Regions from separate parts of the Homo sapiens genome. Here region 1 is linked to region 2. A link means that fine-mapping ties the variant in region 2 to the plasma level of a protein whose gene starts in the linked region. Region 2 holds a variant in brackets. A gene starts in the other region. All regions are shown on their forward strands.

Region 1 (11,711 bases), not on the chromosome of region 2:
GGGAATCTCCTTGCTCCACAGCTCTCTTTGTTGCTTGAGATACACAGGAATCCCTTTCACGGGGGCCCGCATGGAAACAGTCTTCATTTTAATTGCCTGCAAGATTAAATATCAAGCAACAGTGAGATGTAGTTCTGAAACTCAACGATGTTTGGCCATACCGGTAGGAGCAGAATATCCAAATGGTTAGAGAAAAGAGTTGTCCTGGCTCCCCTCTAATCAGTCCACACCTGGGCTTGTGCATCTAATGCCGGGCATTGCATTTTTGAGGGGCATCCACAAACAAGGTTCGCAGAGAGTGAGGAATCCAGAAGCAAACTCCAGAAGAACACTCCCTTGGGAAACAGTCAAAGACCCTGTGAGGAGAGACATGAAGGGTGATGTGAGAACCCTCCTGCACTAACTGGAGGCTGCCCCTGTTGAAATGGGGGCAGACTGTGTTGCTCTAGAGAGCAGAATTGGGCCACTCACTTGTAAAAGAGTTTGGAATGAATGCTTCAGAGGAATTCTGCAAGCACCTTATATTGGGACTTAGCAAGGTACCTTCATGGTGTCCCCATGTATGGGACAGAAATAAGCACTCCATGGTAATACAGTCAGATGGATGGGGGGACTGGCCATGCTCTATGAGTTAGTTTAATGGAGTGTAGAAGCCAGCCTCCAAGATGCCCCCAGTGATCCCCATCCCCTGGTATTCACATCCTGTATGACCCTCCCACACTAGTTCAGGGCTGGCCCTGTGTGGGACTTCCAAAGCTATGACACAGAAGCACTGCACTCCCTGTGTCACTCACTGTGGTGGAAGCCAGCTGCCATGTCATGAGGACACTCAAGCAGCTCCATCGGGAGGCCCTATGGAGATGAAATGAGGTCACTGGCCAGCAGCCAGCACCAATTCACCAATCACGTGAGCGACCCACCTTGGACATGGATCCTCAAGCCCCAGTCAAGCTTTCAGCTAACTGCAGCTGTAACTGACATCTGACTACAACTTCAAGAGCTAGTCCAGGCCAGAACTGCCTGGCGAAGTTTCTCCCAAATTCCCGATCCATAGAAACCATGAGAGATATTAAATAACTATTGTTTTAAGACACTCAGTTTTGAGGTGATTTGTTACACAGCCATTATAACTGGAATATCGGATTATGTCGTTCATTCCAGGGGGGCTGTCTCTAGTGCTCTGCTCTAGAACTCAGCCCTAATCTCCGTCCCAGGCAATATTTTTATGAGCAGCCTGAATGAAAACATAGAAGTGGCACACTAGTTAGCTTTGTAGAATGTCTGCTGCTAAGAGGAATGGCAAACACACAGAATAATAGAGTCAGAATCCAAGATGATCTGAAGTAGTAAACTGAATTAGTTAGTGTAATGTTTAAAAGAAGCAAAAATGAAGCCCCACACTTGGATTGGAAAAACCCATTGTACCAGGATAAGCCAAAGGAGATGCTAGGTGGCAGAAGCACTGTGAAAAGGAAGTCTGAGCTGGCTGCAGGCTCCAAATGAGTCATGATGAGGCTGTCATAAAAGCACATAAATGTTGGCTGCATTACCAGAAGCACAGGACCCAGGTTATTGAGGTGAGCTCTCCTCTGGACCCAATCCAAAAGGGAGAAGGGAGAGACTTGAGATCACTGATTCCAAACAGAAAGGTTTATCACGTGGCAGGAGGTCCTGGGACAGGTTAGGGTTGGGGGGATGGAAATGGGCCTGTCTTGTTCACTGCTGAATCCACAGTATTGGGCATGAGCTTCTGTGAAAGCTGAAAGCTGCCTAAATACAAGAACCACGTGAAAAAAATGGATGTGGCCTCAGAAGGGAGTCAAACTCATGGCCACATCCAAGCAGAGTCTGATGTCCTACTTGAGGGAAACATCATGGACAGGACTGACATACTCTATGGAGGGGTGTCCTTAAAGTTCTCCAAGAGCTCTTCCCAGCTCTGAGATTCTCTTATTCTGTGATTTGTGATTGAATGAGTAGAACCTGCTGAATGATGTCAGCACAGTGCTTCTCAAACTTCAGCAGGCATATACAACACGGGAGGGATCTTGTTAAAATGCAGATTGTGAGTCAGTAGGTCTGGGGAACCTGGCATTCTGCATTTTGAATAAGCTTCCAGGTGACACTGCCAGTCTATAGAACATACTCTGAGCAGCAAGAGGTTAGAAATTGCCAGTTTACAGCAGACTGCATCGGGCAGCCTGGAAAAGGCATTAGGCAACTGTAAAGTATTCTAGCAGAAGAGGAGATGACCAGCTTCAGAAATATTACACTGGAACAGAGCTCCTGAGTTGGACAGGAAGAGCCTGTGTATGCCACCAAGGGCCTTCTGACACGCATGTCCTTTGACTCTCTGAATACTGTCTTTAAAGTGTCCAAATGCGTTGCCATTATCCTGGGTTTTTTGTATCCTTTAGGGCTAGGGAGTGTGAATTCATACCAGCCTGTACTCCAATCCCATTCACTACCTTGATGGCCTCTGAGTCTTGGTTTCTTAGTGTGTAAATGGGAATGGCATCCATCTGAGAGGCTGCTGTACCAAGCAGCATCTGACACATAATAGGTGCCCAATATATGTTTCTTAGACTCATTACAAAACCAGATGATCAATAAACATTTGTTCCCTTCAATACAAAGATAAATCGCCTAATTAATATTTGCCCTTGACTTGTTCTTCATTAACCCCACCTGCCCTAGGATGAATGTTGACATGAACCCATTTTACAAATGAGAGCAATTTGTTCTCCCACAAGGCATCAGGTAAACACAGGCATGAGAATCCATGACCTCGTTGGAATTTCAGGGACTGTTTTTTTCCCAGAGGGTCATTTCTCCCTGTTCCAGGCATTGAGGCCAGTAACTATTAAGATTTCATCTCTTTTTTTTTTTTTGAGACGGAGTCTTGCTCTGTCGCCCAGCCTGGAGTGCAGTGGCGCCGTCTCAGCTCACTGCAAGCTCCGCCTCCCGGGTTCACGCCATTCTCCTGCCTCAGCCTCCTGAGTAGCTGGGACTACAGGCGCCCGCCGCCACGCCCGGCTAATTTTTTTGTATTTTTAGTAGAGATGGGGTTTCACCGTGTTAGCCAGGATGGTCTCCATCTCCTGACCTCGTGATCCGCCCGCCTCGGCCTCCCAAAGTGCTGGGATTACAGGCGTGAGCCACTGCGCCCGGCCTCATCTCATTTCTTTATCTGTGAGAGAAGCCACTATCACCCCCTAAGGGGCTTCGGTCACCAGCATTTTGTCTGTGTCCTAAATGCTTCAAGACTTACAGACCTGACTCAATACGCTCAGGTAGAAAAAGGGTGAAATCAAGAATGGCCAACCACTGGAACACTTTAGCCATTGCTCTGAGAGGTGGGTGGATAGAGTGGGCACTATGCTCCCTCCGACGGGGCTTCACTGCCCTGGACAGGGGAGAGACAGGCGGCTCACAGAGCATGTGCTGGGCCAGGGCCAGTCCCGCCCCCAGGCAGAGATGGCCAGTAAAATAACCACATAATTCCAGTGGAGTCGCCCTGGGGAAACCGAGGCACTTCAGTTCCTTTTCATCAAGGAACTGATTAAAGTGTGGTCTATTATCTCTGTAGTGGGGAGTCCCGAAAGATTCCACTTCTTCCTCTTCTTGCCCAATGAGAGGGTCAGGAAGCTTCCACCACCATCCTGACTGTGGCCACCACATCCTGGTGTGAAGCACCACCAGCTTCCTCCACAAGAACTCTGAAGGTCACCAGCCAGCTTGAGTCCTCCGAAGGTGCTGTGGCTCAACCAGCAGCCTGTGTAGCAGAGAGCACAAGACCTGGGACTCGAACTCAGTCCCACCTTCAAGAGGGATCTCCACCACTTTCTGAGCCTCAGTTTTCACATCTTTGGTTAGGGGCAGGTGGGAAGTTGCCATATTTACCTTGTTGGGCTCTTTGGAAAAATTAAATGAAATGTTAATGTATGTTACACAACGGGCTCATAGGAGGGATTCAAAAGCTGCTAGTTCTTTTTCTCCTTTTCCTGAAAACGGTATTAAAGAGTACTGTAGAGACACTGGAGAATTCCTGCTTCATATGAGATGTCCTTGGTCTCTCCCGGGGAATTTGAAGACCCAGAGACTCGCAGCTCCCCGTGAGCCTCCCCGCTGACGCCTTACCTCCCCCTCTCCACCATCCCCTGCCATCCCGGTGTACGCCACCCCCAAAAAAACTTTCAGCCAGCTCCTCGGTGAGGGTCGTTCCAAATCGTGGCCGACAGTAGCGGGCTGCACCCTCCTTAGATCGCGTCGTGGCCAGCCTCAGCTGCAGAACCCCGCCGGGCGCCCGGGAGCCCTGTCCCGCCGCGGCGGCCTCAGAGTCCGGGCACTTGGGGATTCTCTGAGGGTGCAGCCCTCCTGGGCCCCTCCGACTGCGGAGCTGCCGACCGCAATGCAGATGCGGGCCCTCCAGCCCTTCTCGCGCCGCCTTCCTCCCGCCAGCCCCGGAGCTGCCGGGTCCGCGCCGCCCCGGGGAGCGCTCCTCTCCCGCCCTGAGCGCAGGCCGGCTTCCCCATCGGCGCGCCGGTCCGGAGCCAGGGTCCAGCGCGCTCCAGACGCCTCTGCCTTCCCCTCCCCCTGTCGGCCGCCCCTCGGTCCCTGGGGGTGGGGTTTCCCTTTGCGCTCGCCCCCTCCCGCCCCCACCCCTCACGGGCCCTCCCCTCCCCCGCCCGTCCCTATGTATGTGTCACAGCGCGCCATGCCCGCCCGCCCGCCCACCTACCTCCCCGCCGCTCCAGAGGGGGCTCGCAGAGCTGAGGACGCGCGCAGCGCTGCTCAAGGTCTCTCTCTCTCAGCACCCTCGCCGGCCGGCGTCTGACGCGGGTGCCAGGGTCTCCGGGCACCTTTCAGTGTCCATTCCCTCAGCCAGCCAGGACTCCGCAACCCAGCAGTTGCCGCTGCGGCCACAGCCCGAGGGGACCTGCGGACAGGACGCCGGCAGGAGGAGGGGTGCGCAGCGCCCGCGCAGAGCGTCTCCCTCGCTACGCAGCGAGACCCGGGCCTCCCGGCCCCAGGAGCCCCCAGCTGCCTCGCCAGGTGTGTGGGACTGAAGTTCTTGGAGAAGGGAGTCCAACTCTTCAAGGTAACTGTCTCCTTCCCTCCAGAGCGAGGCTCTCCCAGGGCGCCCGGCGAGCCAGGAACGGGACTGAGACTGCACGCCCCGGGGCTGGGGGCTGCACTGCCTTGGTCTCCGCCCTAGAGCTATGTGTGCCGGGGGCGCAGCACATCCACCGGCTGCGTCCGCGGTGGAGTTGAGCAAACTTTTTGGCTGTTGCAGACTCAGTGAATGGGGCAAAGGAACACGTGAGGAGGGGCACTTGTCTCCTAGTCCGCCAGGATGAAGGAACAAGGGAGCCTTTTCTCCAAACACCTAGGTGATTTTAAATCCTAGGGTCTGGAAAGACCCATGGTTGACAGAGTAGCAGCTTCAGAGTCAAGGGAATGTGGGTTCAAATCCCCGAGGTGCTACTTTTGAGCTGGAAGGTGTGCTTCACCTTCCTGAGCCTTGGCCTGCCGTCTGTCAGCTGAGAGGGAAAAGGCCTTCGCGGGGTCTGGAAGAATAAATGAAATCATATGGACACTATGTCAGGGACACAGCGGGTCCTAAGCCGAGGCTAGATAGTCCATCCTTGGCCACTTGGCTTACTCCAGGGACCAGAGTGCCTGAAGAGTCTGCCCAGGGGAGAGTGGCAGAACCTGGGACAGAGCTACTGAACTGCCAGCAGGGGAGAGGAGAGCAGTGCCCTGAACACACGGGTGTCCAACCAAGAAGGGGCATTTCTCAAGGAAGAAAGGGGAGGGGAGTTGAGGACACACGACCACGAGCGGTTTTTCCGTCTGTGGGTTCCTCTTCAAACGAAGCCAATGCTGGTGGAGCAGGAGCCCTTTCCAACCCTGGGGCTGGGTTGGAGGCTGTCAGTATGTCAACTGAACCACACTCTGGGCAGAGCAAGCTGCGGGGGTGGGGGCTTGTCTCTGGTTGTGAGACAGGATCCAACCCAAACTTTTCCATCATTATCCTCCTTTCAGTCATGAGCTGGGTTCTGACAGGATCCTACTAGGGTTTCACCATGAAGAAGCTGGAGTTCCAGCATGTTGACTGATGTGTAAATTCTGGTTCTGTGGGGCTGGCTGCCAGGAGGAAAATACAAAGCTGAATTGGGTTAGCACGGTGTTTTGGGGTCCTGGGTGCTGCAGTGGGTGGGTGTCTGACAGTTTAGAGGGGACTCTGGACCTTGAAAATTCACCCACCTCGTCTGAAGAGGAGGGCAAGTGGACCCAGAAAGGTGCAATGAATTTCTGAAGGTTGAACTGTGACTTAGGGTCAAGGGCAGAACTAGAATCCAGGTTTTCTGAGGCCATAGTCGGTCCCTCGTCCTGATTTAAGAGTCCAGAATTCTTGGGTTCTAATCCTTATCTCTCTTTCTTGTCCTGGGTTGCCATGGACAAGGAGCAATCAGGTTGCTCATGCACCCTGGGCAAGGTGGGTTTGGAGGCACTATGAAGATACGGTTTAGGAGTGTTGGCTTGTCAATCACAGGCTCCAGGGAGAAACTGCAGGAAATGGAAAGGCAATGGGGAAGAAAACCCTGAAGCTCGTTGGGGGAGGAAGCATTGAGCGGCAGTGGGGAGGAGAGGTTCTAACCTGAAAGAAAGATTGCAGAATAGTAGATCTCCCCAGTATAAAAAGTTTCAGAAGAAGGAATTGTCCAAAGGAAGAAGATATCTCTTGGAGAGATGCTGGAATTCCACAGGTTACCTTGAGCTGTGTTTAATTTAGATATTCTTACGTGTAGTTTCTAGTGCTGTGCCTGGTATTTTCATTCATTCTCCAATATCTGCTGAGCGCCACCTAGGTGCCAGGCTCTGTGCTCAATGCTGGCCCACAGCGGGTACTCAATAAACAGCAGATATGAGATGACCCAAGCAAAGGGCTTAGCGTAGTGCCTGGCACTGGGCAAGTACTCAGTAACTGTTTCATATTATTAATATTACTATTATCATTCTTAATTCTAGTAGTAAATGAATGTTTTTCTTTTTCTAGAATATTCACTGACAATCATACTTAAAAGGGAATATTTTGTTTAATGTTCGGAAGCCCTCCACACACCCAGGCACACCTCTTGCCCCTGTTCCCCATCTCTCTCACACCCACACGCCCAATCCCAGGCAGCCACTCACCCCTGCATGCCAAGGCAGAGCGTTCTCCTCCTCTTATGCCCCCTCCCCAATTAGAGAGGGAGCTCCAAGAGAGAGCTCACCTCCTGAGACAGTCGGCAAGAGCCAGGAGGGTGGACAGCCTGCATGCAAGGAAGACTGGGATTCAAATTCCAGCTCAGCCACTCGCTGGCTACATGGCTTTGATAAGGGTACTGAGCCTCCCAGAGGCTTCATTTCCTCTTCTCTAAAAAGGGGAGAAAATCCTCCGATAAGAGATTTTTGTGAAGATTAAAAGACATAAAGTGGGTGCCTTGTCCAGCTCTCAGCAAGCACCACAAACTTTAATTCCTCTCCTCTAACAGCTCCTAAGCCCCCTTGTGGGTCACAAACCCCAAGTTATGGATAGCAAAAATTTCAAATGTTTTCTCTTGATAAGAGACTGTGTGTCCTAACTTTTGGTGTGAATTTTTTTTTTTTTTTTAAGATGGGAGTCTTGCTCTGTTATCCAGGCTAGAGTGCAGTGGCCCAATGTTGGCTCACTGCAACCTCCGCCTCCCAGGTTCAAGTGATTCTTGTGCCTCAGCCTCCCAAGTAGCTGGGGTTACTTGTGTACCACCACGCCCGGCTAATTTTTGTATTTGTAGTACAGACGAGATTTCACCATGTTGGCCAGGCTGGTCTCGAACTTCTGACCTCAGGTGATCGCCTGCCTCAGCCTCCCAAAATGCTAGGATTCAGGCGTGAGCCACCATGCCCAGCCAGTGAATTTCTTTTTAATGATTCCTTCTAGAACTGGGTTCCTCCCAAGACCCTTCTTATTGGGCCCTTAGGAGGACCTCAGCTGAGCCAAAGGAAGCCCATGAGACCCTGCCTAGAGTCCCACTTTGAGTCTGTCTCTGCTGCTGCAGGGATGTCTAGCACCAGATTTGTCCAACTGCAGGTTGTGAGATCAATTTAGCGGGGTTCTTAATAAAATAGGAAATACCAGATAATCTCATAGTGCCTCCTATGTAGCAAAGGTAAGTACTGTTTCTGGAAACTTTTGTTTCTGTTATTTATTTTGAAGCCCTCTATAAGGGTATGTATGTTTATAATATAAATGTATATATGCAAATATATACAAATTTGATATTTGCATATATTTTTATTTAATTTTTTTTTTACTATATTGGTCCCAATGATGTTTCTGTCTCAGAAATTTCAGCATTGTGGCCCTAGGTGGCAGGTGCTGGGGCATCCTTGCTGCCACTGCACCAAGTGCTGGGGAGTCAAGGCAGCTGAGGTGGAAGCTGGAGTTGGGGAAAGGCAAGTTCAAGGAAGAGGACCCAGAGTCAGAGAGGAAGCAGGGCATGGAGGAAGGTCTGCTTATAAGTAGAGCAGGGGAGGGGACAGGCCAGCAGCTGCCCTGGGAAAGGGGATCAGGAGCACATCTTGGGAACAGGAGCCTTCCTCTCCTGCTGTCAACGGCCTGGCCTCGTGGCCATGCTTCGTGTCCTGATGGTAGCCGCACTGCCGCCCTGATAACTTAAAGGAAGCCCCTTCAATGGGATGAAGGGCCCGTTTCTGTGACAGCTACTTTGGGAGTGGCAGCTCCCCTTCCCCCAGATCCAACAGGACACAGCCATCCCTGCGAGGGAGTCTGGGCCCCTGGACGCAGTTGAAGAAGGGCCACTGGGAGGCCGGCAGAACAAGGGGAGGGCTGGAGAAGGAGCGGGAGTGCAGGCGAGAGGAGGACCAGAGAGGGGGAATTTGTAGAGAAAACGGTAAAACGGTTTCTTTTTTCAAAAGTTGAATCCAGGGCAAGAACGGAAACGGTGGAGTTTACTTTTAAAAACTCAGAGCCTCCTTATAAGTGGTGGAGTGTGTGTGTGTGTGTGTGTGTGTGTGTGTGTGTGTGTGCATGCTGGCAGGGCGGGCCCTGCGGGCTGGCCAGGCCTGTGAGAGGTGACTTCTCTCCCTCTCAATGGCCTTACAGTGTATCCTAAAGAAGCTTTTTGTTAAACTCATGAATAGGTGGATTTGGGGTGTGTGATGCTGGGCATCACGATTTGGATATTTGGTTACCTTTGAGGTTACATGTTTTTCCTCTTAAGATACACACTCAAAAAAGGAGCCACCTCTTCTGTGTAGGTCACTATTTTGGTGTATGTGGGGGCGGGGGTGCCTGTCTTTCTGTAATTGATTTGACTGGAGGGGTGAGGGTAAGAAGGAGAAACACAGGACATGGCAGATCTGCAATGCCTGACCTGGGAGACAGCCTCCCTCAGCTCCCTGGTCTCTGGCAGTCCCCAGATCACAGATGCCCAGGGCCTTCCAGGCCTGTGATGGTCCTCATTTAAGAGATCGCAAAAGGGACCTAGGCCCAAAGAGGGGAAGGATATGCCCCAGGCTGCTGCCCCAGAGCAGGTTGGTAAGAATCTGGACTGGGATCTAGACCTTCAGGTTCTCATCACAGAATATGTCGTGTTCCCAGAGATCATTCATTCATTCTTTCAGCAGCACTTGCTACATGCCAGGCACTGTGCTAGGCATGGATAACATAGCAGTGAATAAATCAACTCACTCTTCCTGCCCTCCACCTACTTACAGTCTAATGGGGAAGACGGACTGTAACCAACCTGAACCTGACCCCTCATTTCTATACAGCAGTGGCTGTCACCTGGGGCTATTTTGCCCTCCTTCCCCGGGGAACATTTGGCCATGTCTGGAGACATTTTTTGTTGTCACCACTGGAGACTGAGGTGCTTGCTGCTAGCGTCTCATGGATAGAGCCAGGGGTACTGTGAAACATCTTACAGTGTACAGCACAGCCCCCGCCCACATACATGCACAATAGAGAATTATCTGGCCCAAAATGTCAATAGTCCCAAGGCTGAGACACCCTGCTGCAGACCTTCATTTAGTTCATGGGCCAGGCCATGCCCAACTGGGCATGGCAACTGGAAAAGAGGGGATAGGACAAGAAGGAAAGTTAGGTAGGCAGTGCAGAGGGGACAATAAATGAAAAGGAAAAGAAAAGTCCGAGCCCCCATGGTAAATTAGAAAAAATGTGGGCTTTGGTGGCCCAGACTGAGGTTGAAATCCTAGCTGTATCCCCTTGGGTAAGTCAGTTATCCTCTCTGAGCCTCACTGCGTTTCTGTTTCCGTGAGATGGACTCATGGTACAGTTGTGAAGGTTTGAAAGCAAATAAAGGACCTGGCACAAATTAGACATACAATAAAATGGCAACTGTTATTAGTATATTTGAGGCTTTTAAAGTCCCCACTATGGAAAATTACAGCATCCACACGTGTGATCAGGAAGCCAAAGAAGGCTGCTCTTTGGGGCAGGGTTGCCATAGTATTCCCTCTGCTTGGGGGAGGGGCAGTGGGTGGTGTGAGCATCTCCCTCCAGTGTGTGTGGTGGGAGGAGCACTGCACTTGGAGTCACATGGACTGGGCACTGATGGCCATATGACCTAGGGGAAACTGCTTCACCTCTCAGCCTCAGGTTCTTTATTTATAACACGGAGATGCTAAGCCTGCCCTCATGGGCCAAGATCCAGTGAGGACCTCCGAAGGAGGCCTGTGGGGGTGCCTTGAAGCCGATGCAGGCACCTTTGGTGTCTGGTGTGCCCTGTCCCTAACCCAGGGCCAGGCACATACAACAGACTAGTTGAATGAACCATAGTACTATAAATTCCTTTCAGTTCTTGACAAAGAGAGCACCAAGAATACCCAGTTGGGCAATCCTTCACTTTGTCACTCCTCCATCCTTTGCAAGATGCAGGGACCTCTGGTTCCCAGAACGTGCTGCATCAGGTTGCAGCACCGGGCAGCTGCATCCTCCAGAGAGCACTGCAGATACAGCAGCTGCACCGTGACAGCCCCACAGGGGCATCCCCATGGGGAGTGGGAGGTAGAGGGGTGGGGGTTCTCCAGAGCTGAGGTGAGCCCAGCTACTGAAAAGAGGACCAAATGAGGATCAGGACCCTGGAGATTTATCTCAATGCAGGCATGTCATTGAATACCTCCACTTTCCTATCTGTAAAATGGAGTTGAAGTCATGATAAAGTAAGGCCTAACTAAAAGCCACTAGCCAAAGGGGTGGATTTGGGTAAACTGTCAAGCTTTCCTGAACTTCTATTTTACAGAGTCATGAAACACTGGAGCAGAAAGGGATTCATGGGTCACCACAGCGTCTTCTTCATTATGCAGAGGGGGAGGCTGAGTCCCAGAGAGCGGAGGACACTTGGATGGGGGTTCACAGGCTGCTCTTGCACCCAGGCTTCTGAGGCTCCTCCCTTCACACCACGCAGGTCCCATTCCAGCCAGTAAAGGGAAGCGTCAGATCACAGCAATGCTGTGACATCCAATCAGAACCCAACTCTAAACAGATTTGGTCCTTGGGTTACCCATTGTCCACCCTTGGGACACCTTCTGGCTCTGTCCCTCCATGTCCTCGCTGTTTCCAGGGCTAATTTTGGGGGGAAAAAAAAACCTCTAGAAGAGAAACGTGTAAGGCAAGTCAGAGTTCAGCCTCCCATCTCCCT
Region 2 (11,196 bases):
TGAAACCAGCTCTGCCTCTTCCTGGCTGGTCAACCTTGAGTGCAATGGCACGGTCTCGGCTCACTGCAACCTCTGCCTCCCGGGTTCAAGTGATTCTCCTGCCTCAGCCTCCCAAGTAGCTGGGATTATAGGCGCCTGCCACCATGCCCGGCTAATTTTTTGTATTTTTTTTTCTTTTTTTTTTAGTAGAGACAGGGTTTCACCATGTTGGCCAGCTGGTCTCAAACTCCTGACCTCAGGTGATCCACCCACCTTGGCCTCCCGAAGTGCTAGGATTGCAAGTGTGAGCCACCGCACCCAGCTCCAACCTCAGTTTCTTCATCTGTAAAATTGGGAGTAAAATGGGACCTACTTTTTAGAGTTGTGGGGATTAAATGAATTAAAGTTCCTAGACCAGGGTCTGACCCTTGTCAGCTTTTTAAAAGCATCAGCTATGATGATGATTATTTAATCATCAGAAACTTGTGCTGTTTAAAGGATATTAAAAGAGCCAGCAGCATGTGGGCACTAATGACATGCAGGCACTCTGTCCCAAGCGTTAAATCATTCAGTCCCCGCAATGCCCTTCTAGGGCACATGCTCTTATCATCCCCATTGTTCAGAGAGGTAGAGACGCTTGCCTAAGGCTGCACAGCAAATCAAGGTGGAAATGGAACCCAAGACCCAAAATCAGGTTTTTGACTAGGGAAGAGTCAGGGGGAAAAACAAAGATGAAAGATGGGGAAGGAGAAAACAGCGGCAAAGCTGAGAAAGGTGAGAGTAAGGCAGTGGCACAGACACAGAGGCACGGCTGGC[G/A]GCTTGGGGAGAGGCAGGTGGCTGGCTCTCCTGCTGAATGAGGAAGTGGCTGGGAGCAAGGCCCAAGGGAGGCCACCCCAAGGAGACGGGGACTTCTAGCCCCCAGCTGGAGCCTGGGGCTGGGGAAGGAGGAACCTGAGGTTAGGGTGCTGGAGGATGAGACAGCTGCAGGAAGCCCCCCTCCCCCATCCACACGTCACACCCACCGCTCCTTGGGCCTGGGCTTAGGAGAAAAAAGGGGAAACTGGATTCTGGTCACAGGGCAGATGCCCAGTGGCCTGTGGGGGAAGGGAGGAGAGGAGATTTGGAGCCTGGAGGAGGGTCAGGTCCCAGCTCAGCCCACGGTCACCACTGTTCAGGCCTGGCTGAGTCCCCTCCCTTAAAAACCCAAGCCTCTCCCATTGTGTCTAGAGCGAGCATGGAGGGAACAGACCCTGTAGGTCCTCCCGGGCACACCAGGCCACCCAATGTGTTGGAGCAGAGTGGGCGAGGGGGCAGTCAGAGACCAGAGCAGGGCTCTGAGCCAGGAGGGCCCTGACCTGACTCAGGGGTTCACAGGTTCCCTCCGGCCGCAGGTGGGGAGCAGACTGTGGAGGCAGGGACTGGAGCAGGGAGGCCAGGCTGCTGGGATATTTGTGAGGATATTGTGAGGTCTATTAGAATAATGCCTGGTTGAGTTCAAGACCAGCCCGGCCAGCATGGTGAAACCCCATCTCTACTAAAAATTAGGCTGGGCACGGTGGCTTATGCCTGTAATCCCAGCACTTTGGGAGGCTGAGGCGGGCGGATCACGAGGTCAGGAGATCGAGACCATCCTGGCCAACATGGTGAAACCCGGTCTCTACTAAAAATACAAAAAATTACCTGGGCATGGTGGTGGGCACCTGTAGTCCCAGCTACTCAGAAGGCTGAGGCAAGACAATACCTTGAACCTGGAAGGTGGAGGTTACAGTGAGCTGAGATCGCGCCACTGCACTCCAGCCTGGGCGACACAGCAAGACTCTGTCTCAAAATAATGATAATAATAATAAAGGGCCAAGCGCGGTGGATCACGCCTGTAATCCAACACTTTGGAAGACCGAGGTGGGCGGATCCCCTGAGGTCGGCAGTTCGAGACCAGCCTGACCAATATGGAGAAACTCGGTCTTTACTAAAAAATACAAAATTAGCCTGGCGTGGTGGCGCGTGCCTGTAATTCCAGCTACTCAGGAGCCTGAGGCAGGAGAATCGCTTGAACCCAGGAGGCAGAGGTTGCAGTGAGCAGAGATTGCGCCATTGCACTCCAGCCTGGGCAACAAAAGCGAAACTCAGTCTCAAAATAATAATAATAATAATAATAATAATAATAATAATAATAATAATAATAAACTTTCACTCCTGCTCTAAAACTTACCTTGGTTTCTCACTCTGCCTTATGTCCCTTGGTCAAATTCTTTTTTGAGGAGGCAAGGATTGAGGTTGCTGCAGACCCCTATGGATTCACTGCTGCGAACATACTTCGGTACCGTGTGACTTGGATATGTTCCATGCTAAAAATTAGTATGTCCAGTCTCGAGTTCTCAGCTTAGCTTGATAAAAATCCTCCCTCAGCCAGGTGCAGTGGCTCACACCTGTAATCCCAGGCGTGATTTTGGATTTTGGGACTTTAGGAGGCCAAGGAGGGTGGATCACCTGAGGTCAGGAGTTTGAGACCAGCCTGGCCAACATGGTGAAACCCTGTCTCTACTAAAAATACAAAAACTAGCCAGACATGGTGGCAGGCGCCTGTAATACCAGCTACTTGGGAGGCTGAGGCAGGAGAATCGCTTGAACCTGGGAGGCAGAGGTTGCAGTGAGCCAAGATCATGCCATTGCACTCCAGCCTGGATGACAAGAGTGAGACTTTGACTCAGAAAAAAAAAAAAAATCCTCCCTCAGTCCTTCAGCATCAGCCTCCTAGTCTCATCCTCCCCACTTCAGCCAGGCCTGGGCTGTCCCCAGAAGATATTCCCCAAGCACCATCCAGTCATACGGATGTGGCCATAGGGGCTGGAATCAGGGTCCTAGAGCGCCACCTTTAGTTGCTGAGATGTGGGAAAGTCCAAGGGGTCCCCAAAGAATGGACTCGGGTGGTAGCAGACATCTGTGGGCTATGTGGGCTCTTTACTAACCAGAAGTGGAATGTTTCAACATTTTAGCAACCAATACAACTGTGCTGATGCAGACCACAGGTGGCAGGTCTGGGCTGGCCTCTGGGCTAGAGGACGGATAAAACACTCTCTTTGGCCAGGCATAGTGGCTCACACCTGTAATCCCACCACTTTGGGAGACTGAGGCGGGTGGATCACTTGAGGTCAGGAGTTTGAGACCATCCTGGCCAACATGGTGAAACCCCGTCCCTGCTAAAAAATACAAAAATTAGCCAGGCGTGGTGGTACACATCTGTAATCCCAGCTACTCAGGAGGCTAAGGCAGGAGAATCGCTTGAACCTGGGAGGCAGAGGTTGCAGTGAGCCGAGATCGCACCACTGCACTCAAGCCTGGGCAACAGAGCAAGACTCCGTCTCAAAATAAACAAAACAAAACAAAACAAAAAAACCCTCCCTCTTTGGATGAAGGAAGAAGCTGAGATTCAGGGCACCCAGCAACAAGGCGCTGCCCCAAGACACTGCCAGACTCCTGGAAGCTGAGCTGAGGGCCTCCACACAAGATCAAGAGGTGAGTGTCTCACCCTCTCTGGGCAGCAGGCCAAGAGTTGGGGAAGCCAACGCTGACTTTCCCAGAAACCAGGTAGTGTGTTGGCCTGTGACCAGCTCACTTCTGTGGAAGCTACAGTCCCTCCCCACTCTCCCAGCTTCCACACTGGCCCCTCCACAGCCTGTCCTCCTCAAAGCAGCTGGAAGCTTTGTAAAACATCAGATGAATAGAGGCCAAGGCAGAAGGATCGCTTGAGGCCAGGAGTTCAAAACCAGCCTGGGCAACATAACGAGACCCTGTCTCTAATTCTTTTTTTTTTTTTTGAGATGGAGTTTTGCTCTTGTCGCCCAGGCTGGAGTGCAGTGGCGCGATCTCCGCTCACTGCAACCTCCACCTCCCGGGTTCAAGCAATTCTCCTGCCTCAGCCTGCCGAGTAGCTGGGATTACAGGCATACGCCACCATGCTTGGCTAATTTTGTATTTTTAGTAGAGATGGGGTTTCTCCATGTTGGTCAGGCTGGTCTCGAACTCGCAACCTCAGGTGATCCACCTGCCTCCGCCTCGCAAAGTGCTGGGATTACAGGCGTGAGCCACCGTGCCCAGCTCTAATTATATTTTTAAAAATAGGCTGGGCATGGTGGCTCACGCCTGTCATGCCAACACTTTGGGACACCAAGGCAGGCATATTACTTGACCTCAGGATTTCAAGACCAGCCTGGGAGCCAGGCGTGATGGCTCAAGCTTGTAAATCCCAGCACTTTGGGAAGCTGAGGCAGGTGAATTGCTTGAGCCCAGAAGTTTGAGACCAGCCTGAGCAACAGGGCAAAATCCCAGCTCTACAAAAAATACAAAAATTAGCCCAGCATGGTGGCACCTACCTGTAGTCCTAGCTACTAGGGAGGCTGAGGTGGGAGGATCACCTGAGCCTGGGGAGGCAGAAGCTACAGTGAGCTTTGATTGTGCCACAGCAGTCCAGCCTGGGCCACAGAGTGAGACCCTGTCTCAAAAAAGAAAAAAATTAATTAATTTAATTTAAAAATCAGACAAATAGCCTAATTTTTAAGTGACCAAAACATTTGAACAGACACTTCACTAAAGATGAGACGTGAAGGCCGGGCGTGGTGGCTCACTCCTGTAATCCCAGCACTTTAGGAGGCCAAGGTGGGCGGATCACCTGAGGTAAGGAGTTCGAGACCAGCCCAGCAAATATGGTGAAACCACATCTCTGTTAAAAACACAAAAATTATCTGGGCGTGGTGGCAGTTTCCTATAATTCCATCTACTCAGGAGGCTGAAGCAGGAGAATCCCTTGAACCCAGGAGACAGAGGTTTCAGTAAGCCGAGATCGCACCGCTGCACTCCAGCCTGGGCAACAGAGCAAGACTCCATCAAAAAAAAAAAAAAAAAGCCAGCGTGGTGGCTCACGCCTGTAATCCCAACACTTTGGAAGGCCAAGGCGGGCAGATCACCTGAGGTCAGGAGTTCAAGACCAGCCTGGCCAATATGGTGAAACCCCATCTCTACTAAAAATACAAAAATTAGCCAGGCACGGTGGCAGGCATCTGTAATCCCAGCTGCTTGGGAGGCTGAGGCAGGAGAATCACCTGAACCTTGGAGGCAAAGGTTGTAGTGAGCTGAGATCAAGCCATTGCACTCCAGCCTGGACGACAAAAGTGAGACTCCATCTCAAAAAAAAAAAAAGAAGAAGAAGAAGAAGAGACATGAATGGCCAGGAAGCCTGTGAAAAAGTGCTCAGCACTATTAGTCATTAGGGAAATATAAACGAAACCTCAGTGAAATGTCACTGCACGCCCACTTAAATGACTAAAATTAAAAAGACTGACCCTATCGAGTGTCAGCAGAAATGTGGAGCAGTTGGAAATCTCAGACACTGCCGGTGGAAATGAAAAATAGAGCAACCGCTTTGGAAAATAGTCGGTTGTTTCCTTTAAACATTCTGCAGTAGCTCACACCTGTCATCTCAGTGCCTTAGGGGACTAAGGTGAGAGGATCTCTTGAGGCCAGAAGTTCAAGATCAGCCTGAGAAACATAGCAAGATACCATATTTACAAAAATTGTTCTTTTTTTTGAGACAGAGTCTCATTCTGTTACCCAGGCTGGAGTGCAGTGGCACGATCTCAGCTCACTGCAACCTCCGCCTCCTGGGTTCAAGCAATTTTCATGCCTCAGCCTCCTGAGTAGCTGGGATTACAGGCACCCACCACCACGCCCGGATAGTTTTTTGTATTTTTAGTACAGGTGGGCTTTCACCATGTTGGTCAGGTTGTTCTCAAAGTCCTGACCTCTGGTGATCCACCCTCCTCAGCCCCCCAAAGTGCTGGAATTAGAGGCGTGAGCAACTGTGCCTGGCCTAATTTTTCTATTTTTCATACAGATGGGCTTTCACCATGTTGGTCAGGCTGATCTCGAACTCCTGACCTCAACTGATCCGCCTGCCTCAGCCTCACAAAGTGCTGAGATTACAGGCGTGAGCCACTCTGCCTGGCCCAAATTTTTTTTTTTTTTTTTTTTTTTTTTTTGAGATGGAGTCTCTCTCTGCCGCCCAGGCTGGAGTGCAGTGGCTCGATCTCGGCTCATTGCAGCCTCCCCGTCCCAGATTCAAGCGATTCTCCTGCCTCAGCCTCCCAAGTAGCTGGGATTACAGGCATGAGCCACCACACCTGGCTAATTTTTGTATTTTTTTAGTAGGGACAGGGTTTCGCCATGTTGGCCAGGCTGTTCTCACACTCCTGGCCTCAAGCGATCCTCCCACCTCAGCCTCCTAAAGTTCTGAGATTACAGGCATCAGCCACCATGCCTGGCCCCCAAAATTGTTTTAAATTAGCTAGGCGTGGTGGAGCACACTTGTGGTCCCAGCTACTCAGGAGTCTGAAGCAGGAAGGTTGCCTGAACCCAGGGATTGGAGGTTGCAGTGAGCTATCGTGGCACTACTGCACTCCAGCCTGGGTGACAGAAGGAGACCCTGTTTCAAGAGAAAGAAAAAAGGAAGGAAGAAGGAAGGGAGGGAGAGAGAGAGAAAGAAAGAAGGAAAGAAAAGAAAGAAGAAAGAAAGAGAGACAAAAAGAAAGAAAAGAAAAGAAAAAAAAGAGGCTGGGGGCGGTGGCTCACGCCTGTAATCCCAGCACTTTGGGAGGCTGAGGTGGGCAGATCACAAGGTCAGGAGATCCAGACTATCCTGGCTAACACGGTGAAACCCTGTCTCTACTAAAAATACAAAAATATTAGCCAGGCATGGTGGTGGGTGCCTGTAGTCCCAGCTACTCGGGAGGCTGAGGCAGGAGAATGGCGTGAACCCAGGAGGCGGAGCTTGCAGTGAGCCGAGATTGCGCCACTGCACTCCAGCCTAGGCAACAGAGTGAGACTCCATCTCAAAAAAAAAAAAAAAAAAAGAAGGGGATGTGTGATGTGTTCAATGACATTAGGGAACCCACTGAATCTCTAGGAGGTCCAAGAAATCAGTCCCTGAGCTACACAGATCAGATCCTACTCCTGCCTTGGGGAGCAAACACCTCAGCTCCACTGCTAAAGTGATCTGGGACCTTCTGTGAAGGCTTCTGTCATTTGCATCAGACACTGGGGGAAGTTTGGCAATTTCTAAGAAATTTAAACATAAACACACCATACAACCCAACACTCCCACTCCTAGGTATTTACCAAAGAGAAGTGAAAACGTGAGTTTATACAAAAACCAGTACCATATATTAATAGTGGCTTTGTTCATAATTGCCCCAAACTGGAAACAACCGAATGGTTCTTCACTGGATGAATGGATAAACAAGTTGTTTATCCATTTTTTTGAGATCCACACGGTGGGATACTACTCAGCAATAAAAAGGAATGAACTATTTTTACTTATCTTTTTATTGGAGAAAGGGTCTTGCTCTGTTACGCAGGCTGGAGTGCAGTGGTGCAATCATGGCTCACTACAGCCTCAACTTATTGGGCTCAAGCGATCCTCCCACTTTAGCCTCCCAAGTAGCTGGGACTATAGGTGCGCATCACCATGCCCAGCTAATTTTTATATTTTTCATAGAGATGATGTTTTGCCATGTTGCCTGGGCTGGTCTTGAACTCCTGGCCTCAAGCGATCCTCCCACCTCATTCTCCCAAAGCCCTGGAATTACAGGTATGAGTCACTGCACCTGGCCTCACCAATATTTTTTTCTCCCCTTCTTCTTCTATAGGTGTGAGCCACCACGTCTGTTTTTTTTTTTTGTTTTTTTTTTTTTTTTGAGATGAAGTTTTGCTCTTGTTGCCCAGGCTGGAGTGCAATGGTGCAACCTTGGCTCACTGCAACTTCTGCCTCCTGGGTTCAAGCGATTCTCCTGCTTCAGCCTCCTGAGTAGCTGGGATTACAGGCATGCACCACCATGCCCAGCTAATTTTTGTATTTTTAGTAGAGACGGGGTTTCATCATATTGGTCAGGCTGGTCTCTAATTCCTGACCTCAGGTGATTTGCCAGCCTCGGCCTCCCAAAGTGTTGGGATTACAGGCGTGAGCCACCACTCCCGACATCCTAATTTTTATTTTTATTTTTTTAGAGATGTGATCTCACTCTGTCACTGAGGCTGTAGTGTACTAGCAGGAACATAGCTCACTGCAGCCTCAACCTCCCAGGCTCAAATAATTTTCCCACCTCAGCTCTGCAAGTAGCAGGGACTACTGGCAGGCACCGCCATGCCAGCTAATTTTTAAATTTTTTTGTAGAGATAGTGTTTCACCACCTTGCCCAGGCTGGTCTCAAACTCCTGAGCTCAGGCAATCCACCTGCCTTGGCCTCCTAAGGTGCTGGGATTACAGGTGTGAACCCCCTTGCCCAGCCACCCCTTCCTCTACTGAAACAGAATTTGTAGTTGGGCATGAGATTCCCTAGCCAAGAAGATGTCTCTCATCCTCTTTGGAGCCTGTTGGGGCCATGTATCTGTTTTCTGGCAAACGGAACTTGGGAAGAAATGATGCGGGCAACTTCCAGATTGTGTCCCTAAAGTCAGAGTATGCCCTCTCCTTTTCTGCTCTTCCTATTGGCTGGAATGTGGCCCTTATTCTGGCTGTGGGCACCCACTTTAACCACAACAGCTAACATTTTGAAGGCTTTTTAAGTAGAATCCAAGTAATGCTTGATGGTTTCATCAATTGTGGTTCATCCATAACATAAATAGAGTCATGGCCAGGCATGGTGGCTCATGCCTATAATCCCAGCACTTTGGGGGGCTGAATCAGGAACCTCAATTGTGGCCAGGAGATCAAGACCAGTCCGGGCAACATAGCGAGACCTTGTCTACGAAAACAAACAAACAAACAAACAAACAAACACATCAGCCGAGTGTGGTGGTACATGCCTGTAGTTTCAGCTACTTGGGAGGCTGAGATAGGAGGATCACCTGAGCCCAGGAGGTTGAGGCTATGGTGAGTCATGATTTGATTGGGCCACTGCACTCCAGCCTGGGCAACAAGGACAGAGCAAGACTCTGTCTCAAGGGGAAAAAAAAAAAAATTAAGAACTTGCCACAGTGGCTCATCCCTGTAATCCCAGCACTTTGTGGGGCCAAGGCAGGAGGATTGCTTGAGGTCAGGAGGTGTAGACCGGCCTGAGCAACATAGAGAGACACTCTCTCTACAAAAAAAATTAAAAATTAGCCGAGCGTGGTGGCACACACCTGTAGTCTGAGCTACTTGGGGGGCTGAGGTGGGAAGATCACTTGAGCCCTGGAGGTCGAGGCTACAGTGAGCCGAGATCACGCCACTGCACTCCAGCCTGGGTGACAGAGCGAGACTCTGTCTCCCAAAAAAAAGAATTAATGGCCGGGCGCGGTGGCTCAAGCCTGTAATCCCAGCACTTTGGGAGGCCGAGGTGGGCAGATCACAAGGTCAGGAGATCAAGACCATCCTGGCTAACACGGTGAAACCCTGTCTCTACTAAAAATACACAAAAAAATTAGCCAGGCGTGGTGGCGGGCGCCTGTAGTCCCAGCTACTCGGGAGGCTGAGGCAGGAGAATGGCGTGAACCCAGGAGGCGGAGCTTGCAGTGAGCGGAGATATAGCGCCACTGCACTCCAGCCTGGGCGACAGAGTGAGACTCCGTCTCAAAAAAAAAAAAAAAAAAAAAAGAATTAACATTCACCAAAAGATATCTTAGAATGATAATGTGGCTATATATTTAGATCTATATTTTAAAAGGTCATTATTACTTAGCGATATGTACTTCCTACAAATTTGGGAGGTGAAATAATAAGACGTCTGGAAAGTGTTAAAAGCAATCCAATAAAGAAGAAGTAGGTTCAGGTAGAGAGGGAATAAGATTAGCACGAATTGACAATTATTAAAGCTGGCAATAAGTCTATGGGAATTCATTATACGATTCTCTCTACTTTTGTGTATGTTTGAGATTTTTTATTAAAAAAAAGATAACCATTAGAAAATGGTTACAGAGTAGGAGAAGAAATTTGTAACACATAATGCAATGAATCTGAACATATCCTGCACACATAAATAACTCCTTAAAAACAAACAGCAAACCCCAGAAGAAAAATTGGCAAACTCAAGTAGACACTTAATTAATTAATTTAATTTATTTTATTTTATTTTTTGGAGACAGTCTCACTCTGTCACCCAAGCCGGAATGAAGTGGTGCAATCTTGGCTCATTGCAACCTCCACCTCCCAGGTTCAAGCGATTCTGCTGCCTCAGTGTCCCGAATAGCTAGAATTACAGGCACATGCCACCACACCCGGTTAATCTTTGTATTTTTAGTAGAGACGGGGTTTCGCCATGTTGACCAGGTTGTTCTCAAACTCCTGAGCTCAGGCAATTGGCCCACCTTGGCCTCCCAAAGTGCTTGGATTACAGGCATGAGCCACTGCATCTGGCCAATTGATTTATTTATTTGAAACAGGGTCTCACTCTGTTACCCAGGCTGGAGTAGAGTGGCAGAATCCTAGCTCACTGCAGCCTCAACCTCCCTGGCCTAAGCCATCCTCCCACCTCAGCCTCCCAAGTAACTAAGACCATAAGTATGGGCTACTATGCCTGGCTAATTTTTAAATTTTTTTAGAAACAGGGTCTTGCCCAGGCTGGTCTCAAACTCCTGGGCTCAAGGCGTCCTCTGGCCTTGGCCTCCCAAATTTCGGGGATTGCAGGCATGAGCCACTTCAAGCAAGCACTTCAGAAAAGAGGAACTCTAAATGGCAATAAAGGTGTGAAAAGGTGCTCATCCTCAGAAGGAGAACAAACATTAAAACAATGTAAGGCCTGGTGCAGTGGCTCACGCCTGCAATACCAGCACTTTGGCAGGCGGAGGTGGAAGGATCACCTGAGGTCAGTAGTTCAAGACCAGCCTGGCCAACATGGCAAAACCCCGTCTCTACTAAAAATACAAACATAGCCGGCATGGTGGCACATGCCTGTAATCCCAGTTACGAGGCCGAGGTAGGAGAATTGCCTGAACCCGGTAGGCAAAGGTTGCAGTGAGCCAAGATTGCAACACTGCAGTCCAGAGTGGGCGACAAGAGTCAGACTCCATCTCTAAAAACAAACAAGACTAGTAGCGCAAAACCGCTCCACACCTTTCCCTCTACCCCTAGAAATGTCGAAATTTTCAAAATCCGACACTACCAGATGTGGTGAAATGTGGAGCCACAGAAAATCTCATACACCTCTGAAGGAGGCAGAGGGGTTGAACCACTTTGAAAAACAGTTTGGCACT

Direction of the effects. Alleles are on the strand shown, and positions count from the first base shown. The strength of an association depends on the size of the effect and on how common the allele is.
For the plasma level of the protein whose gene starts at base 4,728 in region 1, G is the low allele of the variant in region 2 and A is the other (weak association).

The links. PIP is the posterior inclusion probability: the model's chance that the variant is causal. The UK Biobank Pharma Proteomics Project read protein levels with antibody pairs (Olink). The fine-mapping took linkage between variants from a reference panel, not from the people measured, so its PIPs are less certain.
Region 1: it holds the start of ACAN, and the variant in region 2 is fine-mapped to the plasma level of the ACAN protein (UK Biobank, PIP 0.94).

Annotation. Positions count from the first base shown.
Region 1 is chr15:88,798,709-88,810,419 of GRCh38, forward strand. It overlaps ACAN (aggrecan), which reads left to right and starts at 4,728. Exons shown (of 19, transcript NM_001369268.1): 1 at 4,728-5,101. It overlaps LOC105370960 (a long non-coding RNA gene), which reads right to left and starts at 4,810. Exons shown (of 3, transcript XR_001751648.1): 1 at 4,742-4,810; 2 at 1-96.
Region 2 is chr19:35,908,534-35,919,729 of GRCh38, forward strand. No RefSeq gene overlaps it. Among named protein-coding and RNA genes, the nearest start is that of TYROBP, 5.8 kb to the left of the region's middle. RefSeq lists enhancers at 739-868, 1,019-1,068, 1,169-1,278. The variant G/A (reference allele first, on the strand shown) is at 796.